Linked DNA regions of Homo sapiens. The protein of the gene in region 2 interacts with the protein of the main gene of each other region in a pairwise test. Each region holds a gene or a part of one and is shown on either strand. Other genes may lie near its edges. The genes, in order: TNPO2, FTO, IL16 and CLP1.

The links.
Region 1: the proteins of FTO (region 2) and TNPO2 interact in binary tests that used the Homo sapiens proteins (3 or more experiments, as listed by UniProt).
Region 3: the proteins of FTO (region 2) and IL16 interact in binary tests that used the Homo sapiens proteins (3 or more experiments, as listed by UniProt).
Region 4: the proteins of FTO (region 2) and CLP1 interact in binary tests that used the Homo sapiens proteins (3 or more experiments, as listed by UniProt).

The regions. Positions count from the first base shown.
Region 1 is NC_000019.10:12,706,395-12,714,348, forward strand, and holds part of TNPO2 (transportin-2), read right to left. Parts: intron 5,220-7,954; coding exon 5,159-5,219; intron 5,068-5,158; coding exon 4,902-5,067; intron 4,380-4,901; coding exon 4,227-4,379; intron 402-4,226; coding exon 176-401; intron 125-175; exon of another isoform or gene 55-124; intron 1-54. UniProt on the Homo sapiens protein: Probably functions in nuclear protein import as nuclear transport receptor. Serves as receptor for nuclear localization signals (NLS) in cargo substrates.
Region 2 is NC_000016.10:53,707,156-53,715,109, forward strand, and holds part of FTO (alpha-ketoglutarate-dependent dioxygenase FTO), read left to right. Parts: intron 1-7,954.
Region 3 is NC_000015.10:81,290,338-81,298,291, forward strand, and holds part of IL16 (pro-interleukin-16), read left to right. Parts: intron 1-115; coding exon 116-203; intron 204-2,218; coding exon 2,219-2,700; intron 2,701-4,680; exon of another isoform or gene 4,681-4,994; coding exon of another isoform or gene 4,995-5,045; exon of another isoform or gene 5,046-5,111; coding exon of another isoform or gene 5,112-5,183; exon of another isoform or gene 5,184-6,590; coding exon 6,591-6,741; intron 6,742-7,954. UniProt on the Homo sapiens protein: Interleukin-16 stimulates a migratory response in CD4+ lymphocytes, monocytes, and eosinophils. Primes CD4+ T-cells for IL-2 and IL-15 responsiveness. Also induces T-lymphocyte expression of interleukin 2 receptor. Ligand for CD4.
Region 4 is NC_000011.10:57,653,247-57,661,127, reverse strand, and holds the start of CLP1 (polyribonucleotide 5'-hydroxyl-kinase Clp1), read right to left. Parts: upstream 3,367-7,881; 5' UTR 3,268-3,366; intron 1,674-3,267; 5' UTR 1,652-1,673; coding exon 1,046-1,651; intron 364-1,045; coding exon 1-363. UniProt on the Homo sapiens protein: Polynucleotide kinase that can phosphorylate the 5'-hydroxyl groups of double-stranded RNA (dsRNA), single-stranded RNA (ssRNA), double-stranded DNA (dsDNA) and double-stranded DNA:RNA hybrids. dsRNA is phosphorylated more efficiently than dsDNA, and the RNA component of a DNA:RNA hybrid is phosphorylated more efficiently than the DNA component.

The DNA.
Region 1 (7,954 bases), on a different chromosome or scaffold from region 2:
CTCAGTGGACCATGGCAGGTGACACTGGGCCATGGGCAGTTGGGGAGGGCAACTCAGGATCAGCCAGTACGAATACGCGATAAATCAGTTCCACATCAACAGTCACAGGTGTCATCACTTCCCAGAGGGTGGCCGGGGGAGAGTGGGGGCTGTGGGATCAGGGGTCCAGGGTCACCTGCAGGCCGCCTCCTGTACCCTCTTGTTGCCATCCAGGATGCGTTTGAGCAGCTCTGTCATCAGGGGCTTGAGGTGCATGTCGGGTGGCTGGCTGACCACCCAGTGGGCATAGCGGCTCAGCGTCCAGCAGGCGATGGAGCGGACCAAGGCCTTCTTATCCGACAGGCACTGGATCAGGTGCGGGATCAGCTCAGGCAGGTAGGGCACCATGCCCTGCATGCAGCCTACAAGGAAAGGGAACCAAGAGGGGGCAGTTTGATTGGGCCCAGCCACACCCACCGTATGGAGAGAAGAGTCAGCCGCACACAACATATAGGGAAACTGAGGCTTAGAGTTTAAATCACTGGCCCAGACTCATTTCACAGAGCCAGGTAAAGGCAGGCACAGGAGGGGAAACAACAGAAGCCTCTCATCCCAAAGCCCCGGGTTATCTTTATTTTTTTTTGAGGCAGAGTCTCGCTCTGTCGCCCAGGCTGGGGCGCAGTGGTACGATCATGGCTCACCGCAACCTTCACCTCCTGGTTCAAACAATTCTCCTGCCTCAGCCTCCCAAGTAGCTGGGATTACAGGCCTCTGCCACAATGCCCGGGGAATTTTTTATATTTTCAGTAGAGACAGGGTTTTACCATGTTGACCAAGATGGTCTCAGTCTCCTGACCTCGTGATCCACCCGCCCTGGCCTCCCAAAGTGCTGGGATTACAGGCGTGAGCCACCGCGCCCAGCCAAAGAGCTCCGTGTTATTGCGTTAATTCAATTCATGCATTAATTCATGTGTTAATTGAATTCATGTGTTAATTCAAAATTGGCTCCGTTACATAGTGAGTGGGGTTTTATGGGGCAGCAGTGACCCAAATGGAATAAAAGCACTTTGCATTTGAAACAGTTCTTAAGATGTTTGTGAGTTTTCTTTTTTTTTTTTTTTTTTTTTTTTTTTTGAGATGGAGTCTTGCTCTGTTGCCCAGGCTAGAGTGCAGTGGTGTGATCTGGGCTCACTGCAGCCTCTGCCTCCCGGGTTCAAGTGATTTCCTGCCTAAGCCTCCCAAGTAGCTGGGACTGCAGGCGCCCGCCACCATACCCAACTAATTTTTATATTTTTAGTAGAGACGGGGTTTTACCATGTTGGCTAGACTGGTCTTAAAATCCCGACCTCACGTGATCCCACCTCAGCCTCCCAGAGTGCTGCGATTATAGGTGTCTGGCCGTTTATGATTGTTCTATTTCTCCTTATTTTTGTTTAATTTTTTAATTTATTATTATTATTTTTTTGAGACGGAGTCTTGCTCTGTTGCCCAAGCTGAAGTACAGTTGCACAATCTTGGCTCACTGCAACCTCCGCCTCCCTGATTCAAGCAATTTTCCTGCCTCAACCTCCCCAGTAGCTGGGACTACAGGCGTGGGCCACCACGTGTGGCTAATTTTTCATATTTTTAGCAGAGACGAAGTTTCACCGTGTTAGCCAGGCTGGTCTCGAACTCCTGACCTCAGTTGATTCAACCGCCTCGGCCTCCCAAAGTGCTGGGATTACAGGCGTGAGCCACTGTGCCCAGCCATTTTTAACAATTTTTTAATGTTTTCTTTGAGACAGAGTCTCGCTCTGTCCCCCAAGGAGGAGTGCAGTGGTGTGATCTCCACTCACTGCAACCTCTGCCTCCCAGGTTCAAGTGATTGTCGTGCCTCAGCCTCCCAATAGCTAGGACTACAGGTATGCACCACCACACCTGGCTAATTTTTGTATTTTTAGCAGAGATGGGGTTTTGCCATGTTGGCCATGCTGGTCTTGAACCCCTGGCATCAGGTGATCCACCCGCCTTGGCCTCCCAGAGTGCTGGGATTACAGGCTTAAGCCACCACACCCAGGGTTTTTTTTTTTTTTTAAAATATCACGAACTCTGCTCTTTTATTTAAAGAGAACAAAGATAATAGCACATTGCCAATAATCCAAGACACAAGATCTATGTTTACCAGTTTGAGCTCAACTCCTATAGATCTTTTTACCATAAACATGTAATACAGGCCGGGTGCGGTGGCTCACGCCTGTAATCCCAGCACTCTGGGAAGCTGAGGCAGATGGATCACCTGAGGTCAGGAGTTCGAAACCAGCTTGACCAACACAGTGAAAGAAACCCCGTCTCTGCTAAAAATACAAAAATCAGCCAGGTGCGGTGGTGGACACCTGTAATTCCAACTACTTGGGAGGCTGAGGCAGGAGAATCTCTGGAACTCGGGAGGCAGAGGTTGCAGTGAGTCAAGATTGCGCCATTGCACTCCAGCCTGGACAGTAAGAGCAAAACTCCGTCTCAAAAAAAAAGAAATTAGCCAGGCCTGGTGGTGAATTCCTGCAATCCCAAGCTACTCTGGAGGCTGAGGCAGGAGAATTGCTTGAACCCGGGAGGCAGAATGTTGTTGCAGTGAGCCAAGATCACACCACTGCACTCCAGCCTGGGCGATAAGAGGGAGACTCCATCTCAAAAAAAAAAGAAAAAAAAAAGAGGCCAGGCGTGGTGGCTGGCTGGGCAAGGTGGCTCACACCCGTAATCCCAGCACTTTGGGAGGCCAAGGCAGGCAGATCATGAGGTCAGGAGATAGAGACCATCCTGGCCAACGTGGTGAAACCCTGTCTCTACTAAAAATACAAAAAAATTAGCTGGGCGTGGTGGCATGCACCTGTAGTCCCAGCTACTCAGGAGGCTGAGGCAGGAGAATCACTTGAACCTGGAAGGCGGAGGTTGCAGTGAGCCAAGATCATGCCACTGCACCCCAGCCTGGCGAGAAAGCAAGACTCAGTCTCAAATAAATAAATAAATAACACAGCTTATGTAATCTATTAACATATGTAAGCGTATTGTGTGATATATACCCTATTAACATGAGATATGAGATACATTAAACACATATTACATGTCGAAACATTTCTTTAGACAATTTTTTTTTGAGACAGGGTCTCAGTCTGTTCTCCATGCTGGAACGCAGTGGCGCAATCATGGCTCACTGCAGCCTTGACCTCTCACCTCAGCCTCCCAGTTAGTTGGGACTATAGGCACTTACCACCACGCCGGCTAATTTTATCAGGTTTTTTTTTTTTTTTTTTTTGGTAGATATGAGGTCTCACTATATTGCCCAGGCTGGTCTTGAACACCTGGGCTCAAACGATCTGCCTGCCTCAGCCTCCCAAAGTGCTAGGATTACAGGCATGAGCCACCACACCTGGCCTTTTTAAAAAATTTTTTGTAGAAAGAGGGTTTCCCTATGTTGCCCAGGCTGGTCTCGGACTCCTGGGCTAAAGCAGTTGTCCTGCTTCAGCCTCCTGAGTAGCTGGGATTACAGGCGTGCACCACAGTAACTAGACAAATTTTAGACAAATTTTGAAAGCTTACAAGGTTGAGGGTTTTTGCTGCCATGCCTGAAATTTTTGGCACAGGTCTGGATGCTGAGGCAATGGTATATGATGCCTCCAACGGACTCACAAAGCCCTCCTGTAACAAGTTTTATGTCCCACCGGGACCATGGGAGCCTGAAAACCCCACCGATTACAGAACACCAGGTTGAATTTGATGAAACACCACCTACCACGGGTTACTACTGACTCTGGCAGGCCAGCCCGGCAGCCAGGAACAGGTTTAAGGCCCAGACACACCCTGAGTGACTGTAAGGAAGTGGCATCAATCTTTCTGTACCTCAGTTTCCCCATCTTCGAAACTGGGATCCGGCACCCAGCTCATCAGGTGGTGGTGAGGGCCAAGGATGTTTGTCTACATAAGTGCACGAGGCAAGCATGCAGCTGTGCCTGCTGTTATTATCATTGTTGCTGTAATTATGCTTACAACATGAAAGAACTACCTGCCTGCAAGAATGAACAAGAGGCCTTGCACTGTGGGGCTCCAGGGGTTCCTTTCAGGCCCAGGAACCAAGGGGAGAATTGAGATCTCAGAGCTGTTTGGAGTGGGGTGAGTAGGCCTCCAGGGAGAACTGAGGCATTGGTGTGGCTAGTAATGTGGGCCAGCCCTACAGTCTCATGCCAGCACAGGGCTCAGAGATCAGGCGCACTCACCCTCAGCAATGGCGCCCAGCACCAGGATGCCCGACTCCTTGACCACCCACTCGGGGTGGAAGAGGAGGCCTTTGAGTAGTGGGAGTAGGTGGGGCAGCAGTTCCTCCCGGAAGACATTGGCGAGGACGTCCAGTGCAGCCGCTGAGCACTTCCCTGGGGAAGGGGGAACAATGGGGAGGCTCAGGGCGGCCCCTCAGGCAGGTGGCCGACCCTCCTTGACTGCACTCCCAGGATCAGAGATCATGCTCAGAATCTTCACGATCAGCTTCTTTTTTTTTGTTTTGTTTTTTTGAGACGGAGTCTCACTTTTTCCGCCCAGGCCGGAGTGCAGTGGCGCTATCTCGGCTCACTGCAAGCTCCGCCTCCTGGGTTCATGCCGTTTTCCTGCCTCAGCCTCCCGAGTAGCTGGGACTACAGGCGCCCGACACCACGCCCGACTAATTTTTTGTATTTTTAGTAGAGACGGGGTTTCACTGTGTTAGCCAGGATGGTGTTGATCTCCTGACCTCGTGATCCGCCCGCCTCAGCCTTCCAAAGTGCTGGGATTACAGGCGTAAGCCACTGCGCCCGGCCACGATCAGCTTCTAATCAGCTTCTGCCTCAGCTTCTAGTCACCTCCCAAGAGGGAGTCCAGGGCTTGCCACCCCACCACCACCCCCAGGCAGGGGCACACACTCAAATTCCAGTCGGACAGAGCATCATCATCATCGTCATCCTCCGCGTCCTCGGAGCCATCAGGCCGCTCAGCCTCGTGGGGCAGTGTGACCGTGCGTGACTTGTGGAAGCGTGGCTTGATGTCCTGCTCACTGTCGGGGACAGCCTCATCCTCCTCCACATCCCCCTGGGGGACAGGCAGACTGTTAAGTACTTTGGGGACCACAGCCGCGACACCCACGCCCATGCCCACCCATGCTGGGTGGGCCCTGCCTGACCTTGAGCAGGATGATGTCAATTTCCGAGTACTTCATCCCATTCACCAAGATGGGGATCAACCTGCACAGAGAGGGACTGTTTATGGGGATGCAGGGGCCGTGGCAAAAGTTGGGGGGAGGCACAGCTTGGGGAGGAGGCAAACAGGTGCCAACAGAGTGACCAGCCCCCCAATCAGCCACAGAGCAGACCCTGCAGAGCATGATGGTACTGCTAGGTGCAAATTGATCCATTTCCCTCTGGGGAATTATCGGAATCTAGTCTCTGCCGCTATGATTAGGATATAAATGATACCACTCCTGCCTCCAGAGAAAGGTTTTTTTTTTTTTTTCTTAAGAAGCAGGGTCTAACCCTGTGGGCGGCAAGCCACCCAGGCACCGAGGCAAGAGACAGAGGACACGAGCTGTTCCAGTATAATAAAATATAAAACAAGAATAGTTATACCAGATATAGATCTTAGATATGATTATATATGAATATCATTAATCATTAGTTTGTAGCAATTACTTTTTATTCCAATATTATGATAATCCTCGCTCTATAATCATAGCCTAGGAAAAACCAGGCCATACAGAGATAGGAGCTGAGGGGACATAGTGAGGTGTGACCAGAAGACAAGAGTGCGAGCCTTCTGTTATGCCCGGACAGGGCCACCAGAGGGCTCCTTGGTCTAGCGGTGACGCCAGCATCTGGGAAGACGCCCGTTACCAGGCGGATCATGGTCCAGCGGTAGCAAAAGGTGTCAAGGAACAACACCCGCTACTTAGCAGACCAGGAAAGTGGGGGAGTCTCCCTTTCCCCGGGGGAGTTTAGAGAAGACTCTGCTCCTCCACCTCTTGTGGAGGGCCTGACATCAGTCAGGTTTGCCCGCAGTTATCCGGAGGCCTAACCGTCTCCCTGAGATGCTGTGCTTCAGTGGTCACACTCCTAGTCTGCCTTCATGTTCCATCCTGTACACCTGGCTCTGCCTTCCAGATAGCAGTAGTAAATTAGTGAAAATACTAATAGTCCCTGATATGCAGAAATAATGGCATACGCTGTCTTTCTCTTTGTCTACTCTCCCTCTCTGCCTCGGCTGCCAGGCAGGGAAGGGCCCCCTGTCCAGTGGACACGTGACCCATGTGACCTTACCTATCATTGGAGGTGACTCACATTCTTTACCCTGCCCCTTCTGCCTTGTATGCAATAAATAACAGCGCAGCCAGACATTTGGGGTCACTACCGGTCTCCGCGCATTGGTGGTAGTGGTCCCCCGGGCCCAGCTGCCTTTTCTATTATCTCTTTGTCTTGTGTCTTTATTTCTACACTCTCTCATCGCCGCACACAGGAAGAGACCCACCGACCCTGTGGGGCTGGTCCCTACGTAACCCTATCACCCAGGCTGGAGTGCACTGGTGCGATCACAGCTCACCACAGCCTCATGCTCCTGGGCTCATGCAATCCTCCTGCCTCAGCCTCCCAAAGTGCTAGGATTATAGGCGTGAGCCATGGCACTCAGCCTGCAGGAAAGCTCTTGACCCAGGCCTGGCCACTCAGTGGATTATAGACCCCTGAATACACTGAAAATCTTGGTACAGTGCCTGGTCCCTAGCACAACATTAAGGCAGGGACATGCGGTCCTATTCCTGGCCACTTTCCTGAGATAGGGCAGAGACTAGCCAGAGTAGGGGAGCAAACAGACTAGGCAGCCAGCCCCTCAGCTGCAGCCCAGAGTTGTAAGTGACAGAGCCTTCATCACCTGCTCATCTAGGTCTCATCACTCCCCAGGAGCCGTCTGCCCAGCCCTAGACTGTTATCAATAATTTGGGGCCGGGCACAGGGGCTCACACCTGTCATTATAGCACTTTGGGAGACCAATGCAGGAGGATTGCCTGAGCCCATAAGTTTGAGACCAATTGGGACAATATAGTGAGACCTCACCTCTAATGAATGATAAATAAATAAATAAATAAATAAATAAATAAATAAACATACAATATGCTGGGCGTGGTGACTCACGCCTGTAATCCTAGCACTTTGGGAGGCCAAAGTGGGCAGAACACAAGGTCAGGAAGCTGAGGCAAGAGAATCGCTTGAACCCGAGGGGCGGAGGTTGCAGTGAGCCGAGATTGTGCCACTGCCCTCCAGCCTGGGCAGCAGAGTGAGACTCCGTCTCAAAAACAGAAATTTCAAAATAATAATAATAATGATCTGGGGGCTGGGTACAGTGGCTCGCACCTGTAATCTCAACACTTTAGGAGACCAAGACAGGAGGACTGCTTGAGGCCAGGGATCCGAGACCAGCCAGAGCAACTTAGCAAGACCTCATCTCTACTAAAACTTAGAAAAGATTAGCTAGGTGTGGTGGGATGTGCCTGTAATCCCAGCTACTTGGGAGGCTGAGGTAGGAGGATTGCTTCAGCTGGGAGGTCAAGGCTGCAGTGAGCCATGATTTTGACACTCCACTCCAGCGTGGATGACAGAGCAAAACCTTGTCTCAAAATAAAAAAGAAAAAAATGATTTGGAGAGAGGCAAGCAATCCAAGTTTGTCAAGGAGGGTCAGTTTTAGGACTTTTGTTGGAAACACTGGTCGAAAATTTCTTTACTCTGAAGTTCCTAAGCTGGAAGGGCACAGAAGGCTACAGCACTACCCAGAGGGAAGGTTGTGCCTAAGAATGAAGCCAACACAAGGGAAGCAGATCTGAGACCACAAAGATGCCTTTCACATCCTTTGAGCTCCTGGATACAGCCATACCCCTGAAGCCTTTGTTGATTTTTCATTTCTTTTTTTTTTTTTTTTGAGACGGAGTTTTGCTCT
Region 2 (7,954 bases):
ATTGAAATCAAGGCATCAATAGGGCCATACTCCCTTTGAAGGACTCTAGGGGAAACTCCTTCCTTGCCTCTTCCAGCTTCTAGTGTCCCTGGTGTTCCTTGGCTTGTGGTAGCATCACTTCATAACTTCTCTGCTTCCATCTTCACATGGCCTTCTCTCTGTTTCTGTGTCTCAAATCTCTCTCTCCTTTCTGTTAAAAGGATGCCAGTCATTGGATTAGGACCCGTCCTAAATCCAGGATGATCCTGAGATCCTTAAGAGCCTCAACTTAATTACATTTGCAAGGACACTTTTTCCAAATAAGGTTACATTCACACGTGCCGGGTTTTTGGATTCGGACATATCTTTTTGGGGAACAATATTCAAATGCACTGCACCCTTTTACATTCCTACCAACTGTTAGTAGGAATGTAAAATGAGAGTTCTACTTGTTTCATATCTTTTCATCGCTTGTCAGTCTTTTACATTTTAACCATTCTAGTAGGTGTGCAGTGATATTTGATTTTAATTTGCATTTCAGTGATGACTAATGAGGTTGCATATCTCTCTTTTTGTAAATCTTTATTGAGTGAGGTATAATTTACATACCATAAAATTCACCTGTTTTCAGTGTAGGACTCAATGGTTGGTAGCATATTTGCAGAGTCGTGTAACTGTCACCACCGTCTTATTTTAGAACAGTTCCATTCCAGAAGAAACTTTGTATTCATTTGCAGTTATTTCTCAATTCTACTTCCTCCCTAGGGAACCACGAATCTACTCTGTTCTTTAGATTTGCCTTTTCTGGACATTTTTATATAGATGGACTCATACAATATGTGGTCTTCTTTCACCCAGGATGTTTTTGAGGTTCATCCATGTTGTAGCATATATTGGTACTTTGTTCCTTTTTATTACACAGTGGATAGAATTCCAGTGTCAGGCCGAGCATGGTGGCTCATGCCTGTAATCCCAGCACTTTGGGAGGCCAAGGCAGGTGGATCACCTGAGGTCAGGATAACTTAGATCAAGACCAGCCTGGCCAACATGGTGAAACCCTGTCTCTACTAAAAATACTAAAATTAGCCAGGAGTGGTGGCACATGCCTGTAATTCTAGCTACTCGGGAGGCTGAGGCATGAGAATCACCTAACCTGGAAGGCAGAGGTTGCAGAGAGCCCAGATTGTGCCACTGCATTCCAGCCTGGGTGACAGAGTGAGACTGTGTCTCAAAAAAAAAAAAAGAATTCCAGTGTCAGGATATACCATATTTTGTTTATCTGTTCACCAGTTGATGGACATTTGATTTGTTTCTACATTTTGACTATTATGGAAAATGCTACTGTGAACATTTGCACCCTAGTTTTTGTGTGGACGTGTTTTCATTCCTCTTTGGTAGATACTTAGGAGTGGAATTACAGGACTTATGGTAAATCTATGTTTAACATTTTAAGAAACTGACAAACTGTTTACTTGTGTGGCTACACCATTTTACATTTCCCATCAGCCATTTTGAGGGTTACAATTTTGTCACATCCTTGTCAACACTTGTTGTTGTCTGTCTTTTCTATTGTAGCCGTTATAGTGGGTGTGAAGTAGTATCTCATTGTGGTTTGATTTGCATTTCTCTGATGGGTAATAATGTTATGCATCTTCTCATGTGCTTATTGGACATGTGTATATCTTCTTTTGTGAAGTGTCTGTTCAAAATCTTTGCCCATTTTTTTGTTGGATTGTTTGTGTTCCTATTATTAAGTTTTATGAGTTCTTTATATTTTCTAGATATAAATCCTTTGTTTACTATGTGTGTTGCAAACATTATCTTCCATTCATCTAGGTTACTTAATAGTTTTTAAGAAAGGTCCACTTTATCAATGTTTATTTTTATGATTCATGCTTTTTGTGTCATATCTATGCAGTCTTTATCCCAAAGTCACAAAGATTTCTTTTTTGCTTTTTAAATTAAACTTTGTCATCCCCATAATGGGCACTTAGTTTTTATTTTTCTTTTCTCTTTGAAATAACTTAGATCATATTTTCTCTCTTGTGATTGCTTATGCTATGGACTTTTATGCTGTTTCCAAGTCTGGAGGGTGAATAAGAAGGTTGGACCACATAGCTTTCTACGATTAACATTTATTTAATTTGTGTTAAGCACATGAGAATACTATACGGTATTCATGCATTTTTAAAATGAACTTTTCTTCTAAGGCATATAATAGAACAGTCCAGATAAGTATTTGATGGTTTGAGTTAGAACCATGGCGTCTACTATTTCCTTACTGTAGGGATAGGGGATTCATACCCCGTGCCTCAGTTTCTCCAGTCATTAATGAGGTTAAGAATAGCTGCTTCTGTGGGTTGGTGTGAGGACCCAGTGTGATGAGGTCTAGCTACTATTCCAGGGGTAGAGTAGCATGCCCTTGATTGAGTTTGGTGGCCTGAGGGGTCCTCTGCTGGGGTGGGGCTGGCCCTATGCATTTTTTCCCAGATGTTATAATTTATTATTTTGAAATGATTTAAAACTTATTGAAGAGCAAGAGTAGAACCTAGAGCTCTCATAGACCTGTTTGTCCATATTCACAGGTTAACATCTTGCTGTGTTCACTTTATTGCTCTCTTTCTCGCCATATATATCCACATGAACAATTTTTTTAATGAACCATTGCAGAGTAAGTCGGAGACATCAGTCCTCTTTACCCCTAAATAGTTCAGCATATATTTCCTAAGAACATGGACATTCTCTTGCATACAAATATAAACACAATCAATTGTTAATTTCAGAAAAAGTTAACATTGATATAATGCTATTATTTCATCCAAAGTCCATATTCAAATTTTGCTAATTGTCCTAATAATGAATTTTATAGCATTTTTTTCCTGGTCCAGGTTCCATCTGGATTGCATATTACCTTTCATTGTCAGGTCCCTTTGGTCTCTTCTCCTTTAATCTGGTGTCCTTTCATGTCCTTTAAATTGGTTCCTCATCCTTTTTCTTTCAAGACATTGACATTTGTGATGTGTGCAAGCTATCTTTTATTTATTTATTTATTTATTTATTTAATTTTTTTGTAGAATGGCCCTGTATTCTTATTTGTCTTATGTTTCCTTATGATTAGATTCAGATTTTGCCTTTTTTTTTTTTTTTTTGAGACCAAGTCTCGCTCTGTTGCCCAGGCTGGAGTGCAGTGGCGCGATCTCAGCTCACTGCAACCTCCACCTCCCGAGTTCAAGCGATTCTTCTGCCTCAGCCTCCTGAGTAGCTCAGACTACAGACACGTGCCACCACACCCAGCTAATTTTTGTATTTTTAGTAGAGATGGGTTTCACCATGTTGGCCAGCCTGATCTCGAACTCCTGACCTCGTGATTCACCTGCCTCGGCCTCCCAAAGCGTTGGGATTACAGGCGTGAGCCACCGTGCGCAGCCCAGATTTTGCATTTTTGCATGTATATTTTTGAGGAAAGATGGGGCCTCTAGAGGTCACATATTTATAATCCACATATGCCTCCTGGCTGTAGGTAAGTTTTATTTGGCCCAAACAAACTAAAAGTTGTTTCAGAATTATTTTCTAATATTTAAAAGTTGAGGGATTTCACATAAAGATCTGGGTGTCTGACTCTCTTGAAAAACTTAAGTATCTGGTAACAGTGGGCATGCATTTTCCTAACTAGAATTGAATAGTGGCTTCCCTTTTAGGTGGGAAATGTGCTTTCCATTTTGCTGTCATCCAGTTTTGCCCCTTAAGTTACAATATAGTGGTGTAGTGTGGAGCTTTAGATGCAGACTCCTGAGATTGAATTCTGCTCCCTCATTTACTTGCGCAAGCAATTTAACTTCTCTGAGCCTCCATTTCCTCATCTATCAAATAGGAGTGATATGGTTCTGGTAGGGATTGAGATATTATATAGCACATAAAACATTGCTGGCATACAGTAAAAATAAACATTGTTATCATCATCATTATCACCATCATCACCACCACCTTCACTACTGCCTATCTGACCCCAGTAGATATATATTCTGTATGTATATATATATATATGTATTCTGATCCCAGGACGTTTATTCTGTAAACTTATGTTGAGTGTCTAGTCAAGTGGATTTTCTCAAATGGGGTTCCATTAACTTATTTCCCATGCAGCCAGAATGGTACTAGTTTTGTACCACCTTTCAGAAAATTGAGAATATAGTCACTCAAACCATTTTCTGTGTTCTGTGGTTCAGATAAGGAACCTGATTAAGTGTCGAGTAGTGTACTCAGCACCAGGGTAAAGATGGCAGACACAGTCCCATGGAACTGGCTGGCTGTCCATGGAAGGTAAGTAAGTACCAACAGCAGAGTGGTGAGTTTTATCACGGGAGGACACGGTAGCAAAGAGGATCTAACATGGCCTAGTAGTCATGGAATTCCTTCCTTAGAAGATCTGTTTAAAGGTGTATCCTTATGAGAGGCCTGGGATTCCTTACGGGGTTTTTCAGAAACATTAAAACTGTTTCATTAGTCATGGAATAAAAAGCTATGGATGTTGAAATCCAAGTTAGCTTCAAAGACTCTTATGCTGGCTTAGGTTAGATAATCTTTTAAACTATTAAAAATAGAACTAGTTTATTATGGAAATGGTTATATACCTAAGAACATTTAATAATTTTGTTTGAGTAATGTACATTTTTATCAATGAAGGAAAATATCCAGAATATGTAACCTACCGTTTTAAGTAACATGATTTAAAAACTCTTCTGCTTTTGGTGATAGTTGTCTTATCAACTTTAAATGATAAGGTTTATTGAGTTATAAAAATAATAACTTGGCCAAATGCAGTGGCTTATACCTGTAATCCCAATGCTTTGTGAGGCCAAGGTGGAGGAGGCTCACTTGAGACCAGGAGTTGGAGGTTACAGTGAGCTGTGATTATGCCACTGCACTCCAGGCTGGGCAACAGAGTGAGACCCTGTCTCTAAATAATAATAACAATAACTCAACAAAAGAAAGTTTGTTATTTATGTTTTTACTGACTGGGTATTTTTACCTTATTTTATATTTCAAATTTGGCATTTTATTGAGGTCCTGAGAAGGTTCTTTTGGAGTCTACTTTTATTATGGGCCATTCTAGATTATGTCACCAGTTTATCTAAAGTGGACACTAAATATAGGACAGTTTTGGTGTTAGGCCAAAGACCAGGGGACTTGAAAAATGAAAACCTCACCTGACAGATTCTACTCTGTTTTTTTTCCTTCTTCCCGAAATCCATTATTATTTTTTGCTTAATCTCTCCTTCAATATATGGGTAAGCCTTTAATCACTGTTTCGGAGGTTTAGTTGACTTCTGTAAATAGAAGAAGAGTTAGTGTATTTGATCATAGTTTCCAAACCACTTTTAATACTGTACCTTACTTGAAAATTAACCAGCTAAACTATCGAGTAACAGTGAGTTCTTGTTGCTTTCTGTTATTTCCAGGCTGTTTCCTAACCCTCCTAGTACTGGTTTTGAAAACTAAATTAGCCATTCAAAAAAACTCTTAGACACTTTGAGCAAACAGTAGCTTCCTTGAAGATAGCATTTGTGTCTAATTCATCTTTTCATCTCTCCATTGTACCTGGCAGGATGTCTTCCACAAAGGAGACATTAATAAGTATCTGGTGAAGAAAGATTAAATGGTTGAGAGAGTCCAGCATCTGTTATGTGATATATGTGACCCTTCATAATTATGATTCTGGATCCTTGGCTGCTAATGAGATTTACTGTGGCTGAGTTTAGTGATACAGATTTTGGCATGTAGATGATAGTCTCCAAAAAAGTAGAGATCATGTTTTTTTTTTTTTTTCCGTTTTGTCATTCACCATTTTATCCCTAGCCCTTAAGATTTTGCCAGACACATGGTAGATATTCCATACTTGTCAAACAATGAATGAATGAATTCCCAAGAGCATCACTTGTTATTGGTCAGTAGACTTTCTAATAGTGAGAGATGGAACCGGAATTTGAAAGAAGTAATGGAAAATGGTTAAGTACCTTATGAATTTTAAATTAATATACCATAGGTGTGGGCATTAATTTTGAGAAACAAGACTCTTCTGTTCAACACATACTTTAGCAACTGTCAACACTTGTTTTCAAGTGTTCTCTTCCAATTTTAAAATGCCAGTTTACCTTTCAGATTTAGAGTATTTTGTTGTTGTTAGTTTATTATGGCAGTTTTCTTGCTAAAGTTATATTTAAAGTGTGACTTTCTAACTTCTAGAGGAGAGGAACTTTTGTTAAGGTGGTACTTTTGGAACCTTAATGAAAAACACACCTTAGAGAAGGTGAATTTAGAGTTCTGCTAAGCACATTCATTTACTCTTCTATTATAAACTGGTTTTGTAATATTTTATAAAATTGTCTCACTGGTTGATTTCACAATGTAAACTGGGAGGATTCTTAGGATTCCTTGGGTTGGATTAGAACAGGTTCAAGAGATGAAGATTTGTGTTGGTAGGGGCTTGTTTCCAAACGTTTGTCCTTGGCATGCTCTTTGTTAAGCCATCACATGTTTGAAAGTTAAACCTTGAATTGGTGCCATGGTTTGCATTTAAAAAAATGTATTTTATTATGGTAAGAACACAACATAAGATCTACTCTCTTACCACATTTTTAAGTGTACAATAAAGTATTGTAAACTGTAGGTACAATGTTGTATAGCAGATCTCTGGCACTGATTCATCTTGTATAATTGAAACTTTATGCCGCTTGATTAGCTCTTTCCCATCCTCCCAGCCCTGGTCATCATCTTTCTACTCTCTGATTCTATGAGTTTGACTATTAGACGTACATTTTTGTTTTTGCTATAAGCATCTGTCCTGTTGCTATGCTGATCATTTATTTACTCTGTAGTTTTGGAAATGACCTGCTTACAAGATAACCATGCCTCCCCTTATGTTAAAAAACTGCCATATGGATAAAGGGCAGTTAAGACCTTTACAACTGGTAGAAACCAAGTAGAAAATTCAGTTTGAAGGACCAAATTATGTTGCAGCTGCTCTGAGGAGGAGATTTGTTGCCAGAGCATGAGTGTTTTCATAATTGTTTGTGATCAGAAAATTCAGAGCTCTGATTTCTGCATTAGCCCTAAGTCTGCCCTTTGGCACCTTCATTTAGTGATTGGATCATTCAAGGCTGAGCCTCAAGGGCCAGCATTTCTCCAGTAATAATATAAAATGGGCTGATGTTGCAACCTTAACTCACTCTGCTGAATTGGGCATGATTAAAGTCTCAAGGCTGCATTAATATGGATTTTCTATTTCTATGTACAGCCGTCCATTATCTCACTATTTTCCAGTTTGCCATTTTTTGAAAACAAAGATGGAAAATTCTGCTGATGAAATTTTTTTTTTGTCTGTCAGCACAACAGCATTTTTTGGGCTTAAGAATATGAGAATAGCACCGGGCAAATGAATGCAAACATTACAGTTTATGTGGACTCTAGCCTGTTGTCATGTCAATCTTGTTATTTAGGTAAATAGTGTGCAATTTTTCACCAAATCAGCAGCCAATATGCTGCGAGCCATTTTTGTTTTAGTTACATTATTGGCTGGTAACACTATTAATGAGACAATAATTGGGAAATAGTAGTCATTGTTCTCATAAAACACGATCCTTGTGTTGGAACCACAGCCAGGCAGAGGAGTTGCATATGCAGACTGCAAGGGAGGAAAGGATGAGTAGCCAGTGTTCCCAGCTTTTAAAATCATCAGACCCCTGCTGCTTAAATTGCCCCAGCTGTTAATGCTGGAACCATTACAGTAATGGACTCAGCAAATGAAGGAGAACGAAGACACGCACACTTTATTACCAGAGGGGCAATTTTCTCTTCATATGTAATAGCAGCGGTGCCTCATATTGATCAGACCATCAAGATACTAATCCTCTGTAAAATTACTTTTTATAACTGAAAATGTGTTAATCCAAATCAGTCTGTGTCCTGACTGTCTACT
Region 3 (7,954 bases), on a different chromosome or scaffold from region 2:
GGTTGAAATAAAATAATTTAGAATCCAGTGGCCCAGCTTTGGAGCTGGTACGGGGCTGGGAGCCTGATGCAGGAGCTTCTACTGTTTGTTTGAGGAGATGACTGATATTTTCTAGGTCTCTGAACAGCAACTCAAAGAAGCTGTGGCCCAGGCTGTGGAAAACACCAAGTTTGGAAAGGAGAGGCATCAGTGGAGTCTGGAAGGTAAGACAAATGGTGAACTTTGATGTAAAATATCTTTGCCTTCTTAGAAAGCTTAGGATTTATCCATTAACTCATCCTCTATCCAAGGAATAGTAACAGCATTTACCATAGACCAGCATAGTATGTAGACAAAGGCTGAAAACTAGCAGCCCACCAGCTAAATTTAGCTTATATTTTTGCTTTGTTTGGAAGACACAAGATTTTAAAAGCATCTGAATTTAAATTGCTACAAATGTGCCAGGCTCTCTCCAGCTCCCGGTGGTCTCCACCGTTCCCTTTATCCTGTACCAAGTTGCCATTCACACAATAGCCCCTGCAGGCACTTGAGTTTGCAGCCCCTAGTTTATAATAATAGAATATTAGAAAAACTAACATTTGGGAATATAATTCTGACATTTATTTAATTCTTATAATTCTTATAATAAATCAGAGACTATGCTAATTCATGCATTCACACATAATTTTTATGCAAATTTTATAAGAAAAAGTGAGGCCCTCAGAGACTCTCTTACTCAAAGTCATACCACTAGAGCACAGAGGCTCTGGAATGGAGATCCAGCTGGCTTGACTCCCATGCCTAGCCATTGGGCATTAATCACGTCTACCATGGAACATCCTTATGAAAGAACAACATGCAACCATTGGCACTGATATTGACAAGAAATTAAATGATCTGGGGAAATGTTCAGAGAAAAGAACAGAACACAATTTATTTCAGCTCTGGTTTATTATTTCTACCCACCCAACATGCATATATGCTCGGGAAAGCATGACAGAGAAACTCACCAAAATTTTGACAGTAGTTATTTCTGGCTGATAGGAACACAGGTGAAGTGAATTTTTACTTTCATTCCTTCCTCCTTGTGGCTGAGTTTTCTCTAAGGAGGATGCATTATTTCATGATCAGGAAAAAAAAAAAGAAAACTTTTTATTTAAAGAGAAAGTGAGTTAGGAGCTTGGCTGGCCTTGGTTCTCTCTCATGGGGCTCCTCTGGCTTTCTTGGTCTCTCAGAATGAGCTGGAATTTGAGCAAGAGACTAGATTTCAATCCTCTCCCACCCCTTCAAGCTGTGATTTTAGGAAAGGGGCACCCTTGACAGCTTACCACTAGAGAGAAGGGCCTCTCAAGGATGTGTGGGTAGCCCTAGTGCTGGAAACTAGGGTAGGGGGTACTGAGAACCAGGAAGGGCTAATGGGGAGGGAGGGAGGAAGGTGCAGTGGCTAAGAAATAGCGGCTTTCTGCCCTCACCTCACCCTCAACTGGAAAGAAATAGTGACTTCTTCGTGTAAGATTCAAAGTGCCTTGACAGGTAGTTTCTCTGTCTTTGTTATTGAGCCTCAAAATAACCCCAGTGACTTTAAAATTATCATCCTCATTTTACAGATGCAGAAATGGAGTTGGGTCCCCCAGGAAGCTGACTCTGAGATGGAGTTTGGTCTGCAGGCAGTGTCCTGGGGTTCACTACCTGTGGCAGGGAGGGGAGCAGGCAGGGTAGACAGAGGGAGGACGGAGCTGAGGTGCACACCCAACAGCTTCAGCCAAGCCCTGGAGCTCTGCAGCCAAAGTCCCCATTAGAGTTGTCCTATGTTGGCCAACATAGCTGGGCCTCTGTAACCCTATCTCCAGCAGTCCCTGGAGATGGGCTGCCCCATTGGACAAGGCAGCTGTCTGCAGCTGTGGCAGCCCCTGGAGGGACCCACAGCTGAAAGTAGTCTGCCAGCAGCACTCCCCACAGCTGGGACACCAAGCCCTTCCTCGATGGGTGATCTGGGTGGCATATCTCCATATACATCAGTCATAGGCTCAGAAAGCTTGAATGATTTTCCCAACCCAAAGTCATACAGCTCGCCAGGGACCAACACCAAGACTGCCATACTCCAGATCCACAGTGACTTCAGATAAGAAGCAGATGGCCGATGTGCAGTGTGCTGCCCGTGGCAGTCACAGGTGAGGCCAGGGGGTATTTCTGTTTTCTGAAGCTCAGCTGTGAAGATTCTCTTGTGCTTCCCACACAGGTGTCAAAAGGCTGGAAAGCAGTTGGCACGGGCGGCCCACCTTGGAGAAGGAACGAGAGAAGAACTCAGCACCCCCGCATCGCAGGGCTCAGAAGGTCATGATCCGCTCCAGCAGTGACAGCAGCTACATGTCTGGGTCCCCAGGGGGAAGTCCTGGGAGTGGCAGTGCTGAGAAGCCGTCCTCTGACGTGGACATCAGCACACACAGCCCCAGCTTGCCTCTGGCACGGGAGCCAGTGGTGCTTTCTATAGCATCCTCCAGGCTGCCCCAGGAGAGCCCACCCCTCCCAGAGAGCCGGGACAGCCACCCGCCGCTGAGACTGAAGAAATCCTTTGAGATTTTGGTGAGAAAGCCTATGTCCTCCAAGCCCAAGCCTCCACCCAGAAAATACTTTAAAAGTGACAGTGACCCTCAGAAGAGTCTGGAAGAGAGAGAGAACTCCTCATGCTCTTCTGGGCACACCCCACCCACCTGTGGCCAGGTAAGAGGATGGGTCCACAGGTTGAGTGTTTCCAGGACCAGACTCAAATCTTGAGCATGGGCAAATTAGCAAGTTAGTGTTAGCAGGGCCAGAATGAAAGTTTCTCCTGCTCCACCAGAGAGAAACTGTTGCCTAGGACTCAGCTGAGGACTGACCATGAAAAGATGGGTTTGAAGGTTGACAGATAATTGAAGTCCCAGTCCTGCTTGCTGGCATCTGGGTTCCCACCCATAACACACTGGAATTTAAGGTTCCTTTCTTGTGTCATTTTTCACTCACCATGAAGGAAAAATACCAGGGCCCCTGCAGGGTCTCAGTCTTTGCATGTGGATCTTTGAGTGTCCTGCTTGTAGGGAGAATAGTGGCTTAAATAACTAAAAAGGGGCCTGGCACGGTGGCTCATGCCTGTAATCCCAGCACTTTGGGAGGCTGAGCCGGGTGGATCATGAGCTCAGGAGTTCAAGACCAGCCTGGCCAAGATGGTGAAACCCTGTCTCTACTAACAATACAAAAATTAGCCGGGTATGGTGGCAGGTGCCTGTAATCCCAGCTACGCAGGAGGCTGAGGCAGGGAATTGCTTAAACCCGGGAGGAGTGGCTCCTTCCAAGGGCTATTGTGAGGATTAAAGGTAACCACTTAAGGCAAGTACCTGACAGCATCTCAGGCATATTAGCATTCATTGCCATGATCTTTCCCCATCAGGCCCCTTAAAGCCCTCCTTTCCACCCCTTGCATAAAAGGCAGACTGACTGACAGACAGCTGCTGTGTCTAGAACCATTTTATGCGCAGGCTAACCACACTGAGTACTTTCATGTACATTGTGTCAATTAAATCTTACAACCACCTGATGGTGAGAGTCCCAGTTGTGCAAAGAGGGAACTGAGAAACTCGCTCAAGTTCACATTGCTAGTGGGTCACAGTTACCCACTATGCAATGCTGAGTTTCCCATCCTTACCCAGAAGCTGTCTCCCCCATCACGGAATGGCCCTGCAGGGGCCCTGGCCCTTCCCTTAAGCACACCGTGGGCAGGTGGGAGGGGGCCTCTGGAAATCCCCTAAAACAATCTACAGTGAGGGTTGGCAAGCTTCAGGAGGGGTAGCGGTGGAGACGGGATGTTGAGTAGGAGGGGTGAAAGTGAAGGAGGGAGGAGGAAGCCAGGTTACTAAAAAGGAAGTGCAGTTTTGCAGAGCGCTGGCAGGATGTGGCTGGTTAGCAACACATGATGGAGTTATCAGATGGATCTGTTCTCCCACCCCCTCTTTTAAGCCCATATTTCATTTTCCCTTGGGCCTGAGACCTATGAGTCCAGAAGGGCAAATCAGGAGCAGCCAGCTGAGAAGCCAGTCATTTTGCCTTCCTCCTGGAGGCCCAGAAAAGGAGTGCAGTTGCCACAGCAGGTCTGTCCCAGTGATGCCCTTGGCAGAGCCACATAGGGTCAGGGAATATTCCCGAGTAAGGCGTCTGGAGAAGGAACTGGGGTGTCCTCAGGGAAGCCCAGGCAAGGAACTTCCCACAGGTCATCTTTCATGCCCTGTGTGCCTCAGCAGAATACAGGGCTCCCTCCTGTACCTGCCCCCAACAGCACCGTCTCCTGGAGACAAGGCCGTTCTGCAGCTGCCCTCCTCTGTTTGCTCTGGTCTGTCCCACGTGGCCAGCAGATCCTTCTCCCACAAACATTTCCATAAAAGCAATCAGCACGACATAATTTTATTGGGCACTGGAGAGGCGGGGGTCACAGAGAAAGGATCATAGCACGCAATAGAAAACAGGAAGCAATTTGCTTGAGGTCACTCTCAAAATTTCCTTGACCATTCCTGGGGATTTCTCACTGGATGTTTTCTTCCGTGGCCACAGTGTCCACTGTCTCACTCTCCCACTTTTCCCTCCCTGCAGTCTTTTCTCTACAGGGTCCCAAGACTGTTGTCAAGCTGCTATGGATGACCCCCAAGTCTTTCCCATCTACTCTAATTCAAGGGGACTTAACTCTCACAACCAATATGAACTTTGGGATATTTTCTTCAACAAAAAACTAACATCCCTCTTATAAAAAATCAGCCTAAACTCTCCCCCGTGCTTTAAAAAACTTGCTTAAAAAAACACAACAGGATTTTCGAAGAATCCTTTCTTAGAAAACAAACAAAAAAACCAAACAAAAACGTACTTTCTCCCCACTATGCTGAATCTGCTCTCTCCCTCTTTCCTTCTTTCTCTTCTCCCTCCCTCATCCACCAAGCATGGTTCCAGGAAACACTAGTAAGAGAAAAATTTGTGTAAAATCAAATTTATTTCAGGGGCTAATTCTGAAGTCTCCCATGAAGAGGATGCAATATTGGATGTGTTGATGAAAAGACAAAACACATTTGTGCTGTTCTAAGTTGTAAAGCTGCATTGACTGCAGTTGGTATCACATGTGGCTGCCTGTAAAAGAGCTAACAATTCATGAATGTCAACAGATGTCAACTTACAGAGCTCCCAACCAGGTGAAATTAAATTTCATCCCCATGTAATTTCTCTTGTGGACAAGAGACTTAGAGATCATCAGGCCAATATTTGGAGCTTCTAATGCCATGACTCAGCCTTACTTTTTTTAAGGGCTAGTTCGAGAAGCTCAATGATTCCTTTGAAATTGGTTGATCTCTCAGTATTTCATAATGCTCTCCTAAAGCTCAGTTCTACAGTAGGGAACTCGAGCTGAGGCAATGCTCTGTGAATACACTTCTAACTTTTGTAGACCTTTGCTTCCTCCAAAATGTTTATTGTCAATGTAGATCTTAAATTTCAGGTCATGGATATTTGCCATTGCTTTTTTAGTCCCAAAGGATGCATTTGTTCCTTCCTCTTTCCTTCCTCTCTGGAAGGAAGCCTGCAGCCATGTCAAATGGCCCATCATTACACAAATCTGGAATGAACCGGACGTGGAGGCCACCGCAGTATAGCAAAGCATTTCTCTTGCAGACAATCAAATACAGGTGGCATCATTTTGATGATGTCTGCTTTCTCAATCTTTTTTTCCAGATGGGTATTATGTTTGGTTGGGCTATGTCTCTGGAACACTATTTTTCTGCCTCTCTGCCTGCAAAATTCTTACTCTGTTTATGAAGCAGACAGAAAGTACTTCTCTAGGAAGCCTTCTCCACCTCTGGGATGGAACTGGTCTCTCTGTTTCCTCTGGGCCCTGACAGTACCTTAAGCACACTGTGTGATAATCCAAACTCTTCAAGTATTGCATAGCTATTCAGAGCCTGGTTCATCTTGTCCCTAGGCTGTTTTGGGAGGACCCCAAGGCTGCATCCAGGCTCAGTGGTGGAAACAATTCTGCAACAGATTGAGGATGTCACCCTAGGTGCCACAGAGGGGAGCAATGGCACAGGTGCTGAGTATCTGTCATCTTTTGCAGAACACTTACTAAATATTTGAAGAGTGCTTAACAAGTGACAGCAATTGACAAGCATTTTCCTGAGTGCTCTAACCTTAGGGAACACTAGCTGCCAGGTTTTTTTGCTGCCTTGTTTCTACGCTGCCCTATACCCTCCCGGGGTGGGTAGTTCACCAGATGCAGTTGTAACTGAAGCAATGCCAGTCCCTCCACACTCAAAGCCTTTTGTTCCTATCATAAAGAGTCAGGGTCTTCAAGTATGTCAACAGTATGAGCCCATGACCTGGATACCAGGTTGCTGGAAGTCAAGGGATGCTCTGCATGTCTAGGAGGTGCTGGCTCTGCCACGTCAGCACCAAGGAGAAAAGAATCCTCTTTACATGGCTGCTGATGAACTTCTCACTGAAAGCAGCTCAATATCCGTTTTTCCGTCCCAATCAAAGCGTGTCTCGCCTTCTCACAGCTTGAGGCTACCGTTTTGACATGGTCTCGCTTCCTGTTTACACCACAGGAAGCGAGAGAGCTGCTGCCACTGCTGCTACCACAGGAAGACACAGCAGGGAGAAGCCCTAGTGCCTCTGCCGGCTGCCCAGGACCTGGTATCGGCCCACAGACCAAGTCCTCCACAGAGGGCGAGCCAGGGTGGAGAAGAGCCAGCCCAGGTAAGCTTTCATTGAGATCTTCCAAAAGGAAGGGTCTTTTGAAAAAAGGTGCAGGGATAAGATAAGAGCACAAATTGGCCTGAGGATCAGAGTGCTCTGCATTGACATCACCACTGGACCTGGCTGATCAACAGTCAAGGGTTCCAGGTGCTGGGCAGCAGCACCGTGGAGGTGCTGTCCAGGGTGGGGAGCCTCCTGGGTGGACGGGTGATGCTGTGGGGGTGGCAGCAGGAATGCAGGCCATTCTGGATAATTGGGAGGATGGAGCCCTTGGAAGAGGTCCAAAGACACACCCACCCAGCCATCCTGGGCAGCTACCTCTAGGGTGCCAACATTCCAGTTGCAACAGTCCTGCTGCATTCAGGATTTCTGAGTCAGAGAATGCAACGCCAGAAAAGTATAAATAGCATCTACCAGTGGTCACCTCCTCCATGAGGTGGATAGCAAGGGTGTGTCCACATGGTACACCTGACAATGCTAAGACATGACTTGAATATTTATTTGCTTGCTAGAGAGAGCATAGGACTTGAAGTCAGGGAATCCTGGATCTGTCTGTCATTAGTATGATTCTGAGCAACCTACTTTGCCTTTCTGAGCCCAGATTCACTCATCAGCAATGTGTGGAAGAGCACGTAGACCCCAAGCATATGATGCATTCAGCAAGCACACATTGAATGCTGGCTTCGTGAGGCCCTGTGCTAGATGCTGGGGGGAGAGAGAGAAAGGGATGAGACCAGGTAGTCAGGTCCTGCCTCCAAGGAGCAACTAGTAGTGGCAGGAAATAAACATATAGACTATAAAACATATGACTGTTTGAGTAACACTACAGAAAAGCTCATGAAAGACTTTTGGAGGGCTAAGGGACATTTTGGAAAGATCTAGCACATCTCACCCAGAGCAGAGGCCCTGTGGGTGGAGGCTCCTCTCCCTTAGTCACCCTAATTGAGGAACATTCTAGCAAAAGCAAACGCCTCAGTGTTTAACTGACAGGAGGTTGTCACTCCAATCTGCAAAGGGCTTGCCTGTGGAACCTCTGCCTCCTGATTCTCACAACAGCACCTTACAGCCAAGCCATTCAAAAATGCAGAAACAGGCTGGAGGCCTGGGCTCACTTGCCCAAGGCCAGTCTCTTAGATTGTGCAGAATTTCTCTTTGATATCATCAAGGTGTAATGCTCCATGATTCACTTCTTTTGAAACCTGGCATTGAGACA
Region 4 (7,881 bases), on a different chromosome or scaffold from region 2:
ATCTGAAAATTTGACATTGAAGGCATGGGGATAGAAACAGCCTCGGAATCCATAAAAATACTCACGGATACGCTCATCCCTACATTCCCGCCGGAAGTCCTTGGAGCGCTCCACCACACCCCCAGATTTAGGGAGCAGCACAGTGCGTACAAAGTGGGGGAGGTCCCGTTTCAGTTCATTGTACAGTCGTTCTTGATCCAGAACAACAACGACATCCACCTCAAAAGCTGAGGCTGCATGCACCAGAGCCTGGTAACCAGAGCCCTTGACCCAGCCACAGGTGTTAATGACACAGCCACTCACAGATGCCCTTCGGTTCACCTCACACCTTTGGTTGAACACATCTGCTAAACGAGATGTAATCTGCAAAAGAGAGGATCAAGGTAAGAACAAAAACACCCAGACAAACCCATGGCTACTTTGTTCCTCTTTAGAATAAGTGCTATTAGATATAAGAAAAATGATTTTTTTTTTGAAATGGAGTCTCACTCTGTTGCCCAGGATGGAGTGCAGTGGCACGATCTCAGCTCACTGCAACCTCCACCTCCCGCGTTCAAGTGATTCTCCTGCCTCAGTCTCTGAACAGCTGGGATTACAGGCACCAGCCACCACGCCCAGCTACTTTTTGTATTTTTAGTAGAGACAAGGTTTCACCATGTTGGCCAGGCTGCTCTCCAACTCCTGACCTCAGGTGATCCACCCGTCTCAGCCTCCCAAGTTGTGGGATTACAGGCATGAGCCACTGTACCCAGCCTGAAAAAATGACATTTTTAATGGCTGTAGTTTTGATACCATAACATGGATTTAATTTTTATGTTGCTGCTTCTGCCTCCTGTTTTATGCCCTAAGTGAAAATCTAACAAATTACTAAGAATAGATCCACAGAAATGTTTAACAATCTGAGACTGACATATTTGGAATTGCCTTTCTAAAGTAATGCAGCAGAAATACCAGCTGAGAAAATGCAGTGTTAACTAGTAAACTTCTCCAGTTTCCTACCCTGATAGCAGCCCTTCCCTCCACCCCACCTTTCTCTGGCTCTGACCTTATTATAAAGCTTGATGTTAGTGCCAGGAGTGGTGGAACCAAAATGATACACCAGAGGGGCCTGGATAGAGAAACCCTCTTCGACATCTGCAGGCCGCTCGATGTAGAGGGCCCCCATGGTACCAGGGATGGACACAGAACCCTGGCCCACATCCAGCTCCACATAAGTGGGACGGCGGCCCAAACGCACTGCGTAGTTGAGCAGAAGGCGACACACTGTAGACTTGCCCACATCAGTGGGGCCCACTACCATCACTCGGGGACCTCGCTCTTCTTCCTTTTCCGCTTGCCTCCGCATCTGTTCCAAGGCTGTGTGAGTGTTGAGGTAAAGCAACATAGGAGTGTCCTTGGAGACATAAGCCACCTCAGTGCGGCCGCTCAGTTGCACAGAACAGCCATGCCAAGTGAAAACAGCCACCTTGGCACCAGCATCAAAGGTGAATTTCTTGTTTCGGGTCAGCTCTGTGCCAAAGATCTCTGCCATGCCAGTCAACAACTCCAACTGAACTGACTGAGATGCCTCCACCTCAAAGCGAAGTTCTGTTTCTCGCTCTAGTTCAAATTTAGTGGTTGGCTTCTTGTCATCATTAGCCTCTTCTCCCATCTCTTCTGTGTAGCTGCTGTGCCTAGAACACAAATTAAATATCAGATCTAATTATAAGTCAGTCTTCTGTTACAAAAACATCCAATGGGGCCAGGCATGGTGGCTCACGCCTGTAATCCCAGCACTTTGGGAAGCCGAGGTGGCTGGATCACTTGAGGTCAGGAGTTCAAGACTAGCCTGGCCAACATGGTGAAACCCTGTCTCTACTAAACATACAAAAAAAAAATTAGCCGGGCATGGTGGAGGGTGCCTGTAATCCCAGCTCTTTGGGAGGCCAAGGCAGGAGAATCGCTTGAACCCAGGTGGCAGAGGCTGCAGTGACCCGAGATTGTGCCACTGCATGCTAGCCTGGGCAACAGAGCAAGACTCCATCTCAAAAAAAAAAAAAAAAATCATCCAATGGGCCAGGCACAGTGGCTTAGGCCTGTAATTTCAGCACTTTGGGGCGCTGAGTTGGGCAGATCCCCTGAGCTCAGAAGTACAAGACCAGCCTGGGCAACATGGTGAAACCCCGTCTGTAGAAAAAATGCAAATATTGGCCAGGCCTGGTGGCTCACGCCTGTAATCCCAGCACTTTGGGAGGCCAAGGTGGGTGGATCACCTGAGGTCAGGAGTTCAAGACCAGCTTGGCCAACATGGTGAAATCTCAGTATTTACTAAAAAATACAAAAATTAGCCAGGCATAATGGTGGGCGCCTGTAGTCCCAGCTACTCAGGAGACTGAGTCAGGAGAATCGCTTGAACCCAGGAGGTGGAGGTTGCAGGGTTGCAGTGAGGCGAGATCATGCCACTGTACTCCCGCCTGGGTGACAGACCAAGGCTCTGTCTCAAAAAAAAATAAAATAAAATAAACAAATAAATAAATAAATAATAAAAACATACAATGAATGTTTCCCCTTACCTTGCTTTAATTCTCTCCATATTTCTTATCACCATCGGTCTCACTATATATTGTGTCTTCCCCGCCTCCTCCACCCCAAAATGTAAGACTTAGGCATTTTTGTTTGATACTATATACTGCTTAGAATACAGCTTGACAGACTGTAGGCACCTCAATACATTGAGTGAATTAATGTCTCAGACATCAGAGAAAAACCATACCTACAGACTGACAGAAGATTTAATTATATCACCCTCCATCACTCTATTGGTAAACTCCAAACTTGAGAAGGTAACAGATGCCCTGACCCCAATCATCCTAGTCAACAGGAAAGGGCGTCTGAAATACGGATGCAAAGCAGAGCACACCGGGTCTGAACTCAGAAAACAGCCTAATCCTCGTCTCTGTAACTACTAGTAGTGTCTTTAGACAATCACTTAACTTCTCTGAACCTTTGAAGCTGTCGACTGGAAGCACTTACACTTCCTCAAATACAGTGTTGTTCTTGGGGTTTACAGGAATTGTGGGAGGAAAAAAAAGCACTTCGTAAACTAGAAAACGGCAAGGAAACGATATGAATTATTTCTGATCCTGGACTGCAGCTCTAGCTCCAGCATTTGTCCCAACCTTCCCAGACACCAAAATCTCCCCAAGACACCAAAATCTCCCCAGACACCAAAATGTCCCCAGACCCCAAGGAGGTGACAGTTGTGTTCCTGCCCTTTTTTTAACTCACCTGCGCAGCCAGGAGCCCAACAGGTAAACTCAGAAGGTCCTCCCGTGCAGAATTTAAACCAAACTACAAGCGGTTCTTGCCCGGACCCACGCCGGAAACAAACGCAGTTCCGCACTTGCGCTGTGAAAGGACACGCGGTCGCGCGCTGCCCTTTGGGATGTGTAGTTTGCCGGAGCAGCCGAGAGCGGGTGCACTCGCTAAGCCGCTCGGCCTTCTGGGAGTTGTAGTCAAAGGATTGTTTTGAACGTGACGCCAAAGGTGGGAGGGGCGGCTGTTGTCATTATTCGTGCAGCCGGAGGGAGGGGTGAGGAGGCGTGGCGGTTGCGCCCCCGCGCTGGGCAGGGACAGGTCGAGGGACCAGGCTTCGGCAGTGCGCGTCCGCGGCGGGAATCTCGCCCCAGATTTCCTGCTCCCCTGCAGCCCAGGAAACAGAAGGGAGGCCCGGGAGAAAGAGAGACTCACTGTCTCGGTCTAGGTCCCGCGACGGCCTGCTTGCCTGGACAAGCCACGAAGCACAAAATCCTTTTTAGGCAGGGGGAAACCCAGGGATAGAGAAAGCGGAGGAAGACAGCCTGACAGAGGTTTCACCAAGCTGTCATCTCCCACCTGACACAGTGCTTGGCACATGGAAGGCATTTCAAATTTTTTTTCTTTAATAAAAGAATAAAAATCCGATGATTTCTTCCAGCTACAAGTCAGTCATTACCCAACAACCTCTCTCCCACTAAACGAGGATTTTTGTTAGGCACTCATTTCCCTCCATAAATCCCTGACAGTTACAGGTCAGTCATTTGCCCCGCAGCCAACAGGTTCCACCACGTCTATAATCCTCTTTTTACTACCTTGGGCTTTGGAATCTTATATTATTTGCTATACTGCTTACATTACTGTGTGACTTTGAGCAAATCACAGGCTTCATCTCTCTGAGATCGTTTTTTTTTTTCTTTTTGTTTTTGAGACAGGGTCTCACTCTCTCGCCCAGGTTGGAGTACAGTGCCGCGAACATGGCTCACTGCAGCCTCGACCTCCTGGGCTCAAGCGTGATATCGTTTTTTGTCTGCAAAGTTGGGATAATAACAGTGCCCAACCTCCTAAAGTTGTTTTGACGATTGCAGGAATGTGCCTGTAAAGTACTAAGTACAATGCCTGTAATATAGAAAAAAATCTGATATCAGCTTTTACGTTTTTATTATAGGCTGGGGCGGAAGGGGCTATAATATCATTCATTCGTGCAATACTTAACATTTTTCAGATCCCTTTCAGGCATCTTCTTTCACAGCCACCCTGTAAAGACAGCTTTATTATATCCAATTTCAGATGGGGGAGGAGACTCAGATAGGTGCAGAGGTTTGCCCAAACATTAACAGCCATTGGTAGAGCTAGGACTCAAACCCAGAGTTTCTGAGTCCGGTTATAATAATAGTAAACATTTAGGCCAGGCGCGGTGGCTCACGCCTGCAGTCTCAGCACTTTGGGAGGCCGAGACGGGCGGATCACCTGAGGTCAGGAGTTCGAGACCAGCCTGACCAACATGGTGAAACCCCATCTATACTAAAAATACAAAAATTAGCTAGGCGTGGTGGCGGGCGCCTGTAATCCCGGCTACTTGGGAGGCTGAGGCAGGAGAATCGCTTGAACCGGGGAGGCGGAGGTTGCAGTGAACTGAGATCACGCCACTGCACACCAGCCTAGGCAACAGAGTGAGACTCTGTCTCACAAAAAAAATCACATTTAAGGCAGGGCGTGGTGGCTCACGCCTGTAATCCCAGCACTTTGGGAGGCCGAGGTGGGTGGATCACGAGGTCAGGAGATCGAGACCATCCTGGCTAACATAGTGAAACCCCGTCTCGACTAAAAATACAAAAAAATTAGCTGGGCGTGGTGGCAGGCGCCTGTAGTCCCAGCTACTAGGGAGGCTGAGGCAGGAGAATGGCCTGACCCCGGGAGGCGGAGCTTGCAGTGAGCTGAGATCCTGCCACTGCACTCCAGCCTGGGCGACAGCGCGAGACTCTGTCTCAAAAAAACAAAAACAAAAAACAAAAAACCACATTTATATACTGTTATATGCCAGATACTGGTCTATGGACTTTTCAGGTGTAAATTCATTTAATCGTAGCCAGAATCCTATGCAGTAGGTACTATAATTGTCATCTCCACTTTACAGGTGAGTACTTTTTTCAGTCCGGCTCACGTAGTTAATTCATATTGAGGAGACTGGGAAGATTTTCTGGTTCGCCAGAAAGATTTTCTCCTGCTGGCCCTACTTAGCAGCACTCCCCAAGCAGTGCCATCCTCACTTATCACTTCTGAGTTTTTCTTTGATGGTTTGCTTTAATTATTTCATTCATTGAACATATATGCATTAGCTTTTTTTTTTTTTTTTTTTTTTTTGAGATGAGGTTTTGCTCTGTTGCCCAGGCTGGAGTGAAGTGGTGCAATTTCAGCTCACTGCAACCTCTGCCTCCTGGGTTCAAGTGATTCTCCTGCCTCAGCCTCCCAAGTAGCTTGGATTACAGGCGTGTGTCACCACGCCCAGGTAATTTTTGTATTTTTAGTAGAGATGGGGTTTTCACCATGTTGGTCAGGCTGACCTCAAACTTCTGACCTCAAGTGATCTGCCCATCTCCGCCTCCCAAAGTGCTGAGAACACAGGCGTGAGCCACCACGCCCGGCCTATGCATTAGTTTTTCAATTAACTATTGTGTGTCCCCTAATCTTCCACTCTTCTTTAAAAATTCAGTTCCAGTCTTCCATTTGCAAATTTTCTCCCTGAGTGGGCTTATCCTCGCCTTTTTCCATGCAATCTATCTCCGAGATCTGTATCTTCGCCTCTACTATCTCCCTTGAGGCAGTTTCTCCCAGTTACCTGAAAGTTGTTTTTATTTGGATATTGTATAACCATCTCAAGCTGAACTTAGGGAAAAGAACCCCTCCTTTCCTTTAGGCTGCTCTCCATTTTGCCTCTAAAATACAGAAAGAGTCAGGACACAACATTTAAAGCATCTGTGCTTGACTACACTCTCTTCTCTCACTTTTTTTTTTTTTTTTTTTTTTTTTAGATGGAGTCTTACTCTGTCTCCCAGACTGGATTGCAGTGGTGCGATCTCAGCTCACTGCAACCTCCATCTCCCGGGTTCAAGCGGTTCTCCTGCCTCAGCCTCCCGAGTAGCTGGGATTACAGGTTTCCACTGCCACACCCAGCTAATTTTTCTATTTTTAGCAGAGACAGGGTTTCACCATGTTGGTCAGGCTGGTCTCGAACTCCTAACCTCAGGTGATCCACCTGCCTCGGTCTCCCAAAATGTCGGGATTACAGGCGTGAGCCACGGCGCCCAGCTCTTTTCTCAGTTTTAATCTTTCACCAAGCACTCCTGCCATCTCCACCCCACCTCCAAACAATACCGTCATCATATGTTCTTTTTCTCCTCTCCAGCTAGATCCTTGATCATTTTCTTTTTGCTTCCAAACTTTCTTTCTTTCTTTCTTTCTCTCTCTCTCTTTCTTTCTTTTTCTTGAGACATAGTTTCGTTCTTGTTGCCCAGGCTGGAGTGAAGTGGCGCAATCTCGGCTCACTGCAGCCTGCGCCTTCCGGGTTCAAGCAATTCTCCCGCCTCAGCCTCCCAAGTAGCTGAGATTACAGGCGCCCGCTGCCATGCCCAGCTAATTTTTGTATGTTTAGTAGAGAAGGAGTTTTGTCATGTTAGCCAGGATGGTCTTGAACCCCTGACCTCAGGGTCATCTGCCCGCCTCAGCCTCCCAAAGTGCTGGGATTACAGGTGTCCGGCCTGCTTCCAAACTTTGAATCCGAGCTGGGCCCAGTGACTCACGCCTGTAATCCCAGCACCTTGGGAGGCCAGGGTGGGTGGATCACTTGAGATCAGGAGTTCGAGACCGGCATGACCAACATGGTGAAATCCCGTCTCTACGAAAAATACAAAAATTAGCCAGGCATGGTGGCACATGCCTGTAATCCCAGCTACTCAGGAAGCTGAGGTGGGAGAATCACTTGAACCCGGGAGCCGGAGGTTGCAGTGATTCTCGATCATGGCATTGCACTCCAGCCTGGGAAACAGAGCGAGATTCCATTTCAAAGAACAAACAAACAAACAAACAAAACAAAAGAACTTTCGATCCATGCCTTGAAAACTAATCATTTGCCTTTTCCCACTTCTCATTGTTCTCCTCAACAATTGCTTTTCAAAATCTTTTTTTTTCTTTTTTTTTTAAATTTTATTATTATTATACTTTAAGTTTTAGGGTACATGTGGTGCACAACGTGCAGGTTTGTTACATATGTATACATGTGCCATATTGGTGTACTGCACCCATTAACTCGTCATTTAGCATTAGGTATATCTCCTAATGCTATCCCTCTCCCCTCCCCCCACCCCTCAACAGGCCCCAGTGCGTGATGTTCCCCTTCCTGTGTCCATGTGTTCTACTTTTATCTCCCCTCTCTTCTGCTGCCCAAACAAAAGCACTTCTCTCTTCTTTCTTTACCTAGCTTTTTCTCTCAATTCCAAATCTCTAGTACTATCCCTCAAGACACCCACATTGTCTTTTCAGAATTTACTTTAAACCCCAGAATCTTCCCTGATTAAATATTTAGAATCC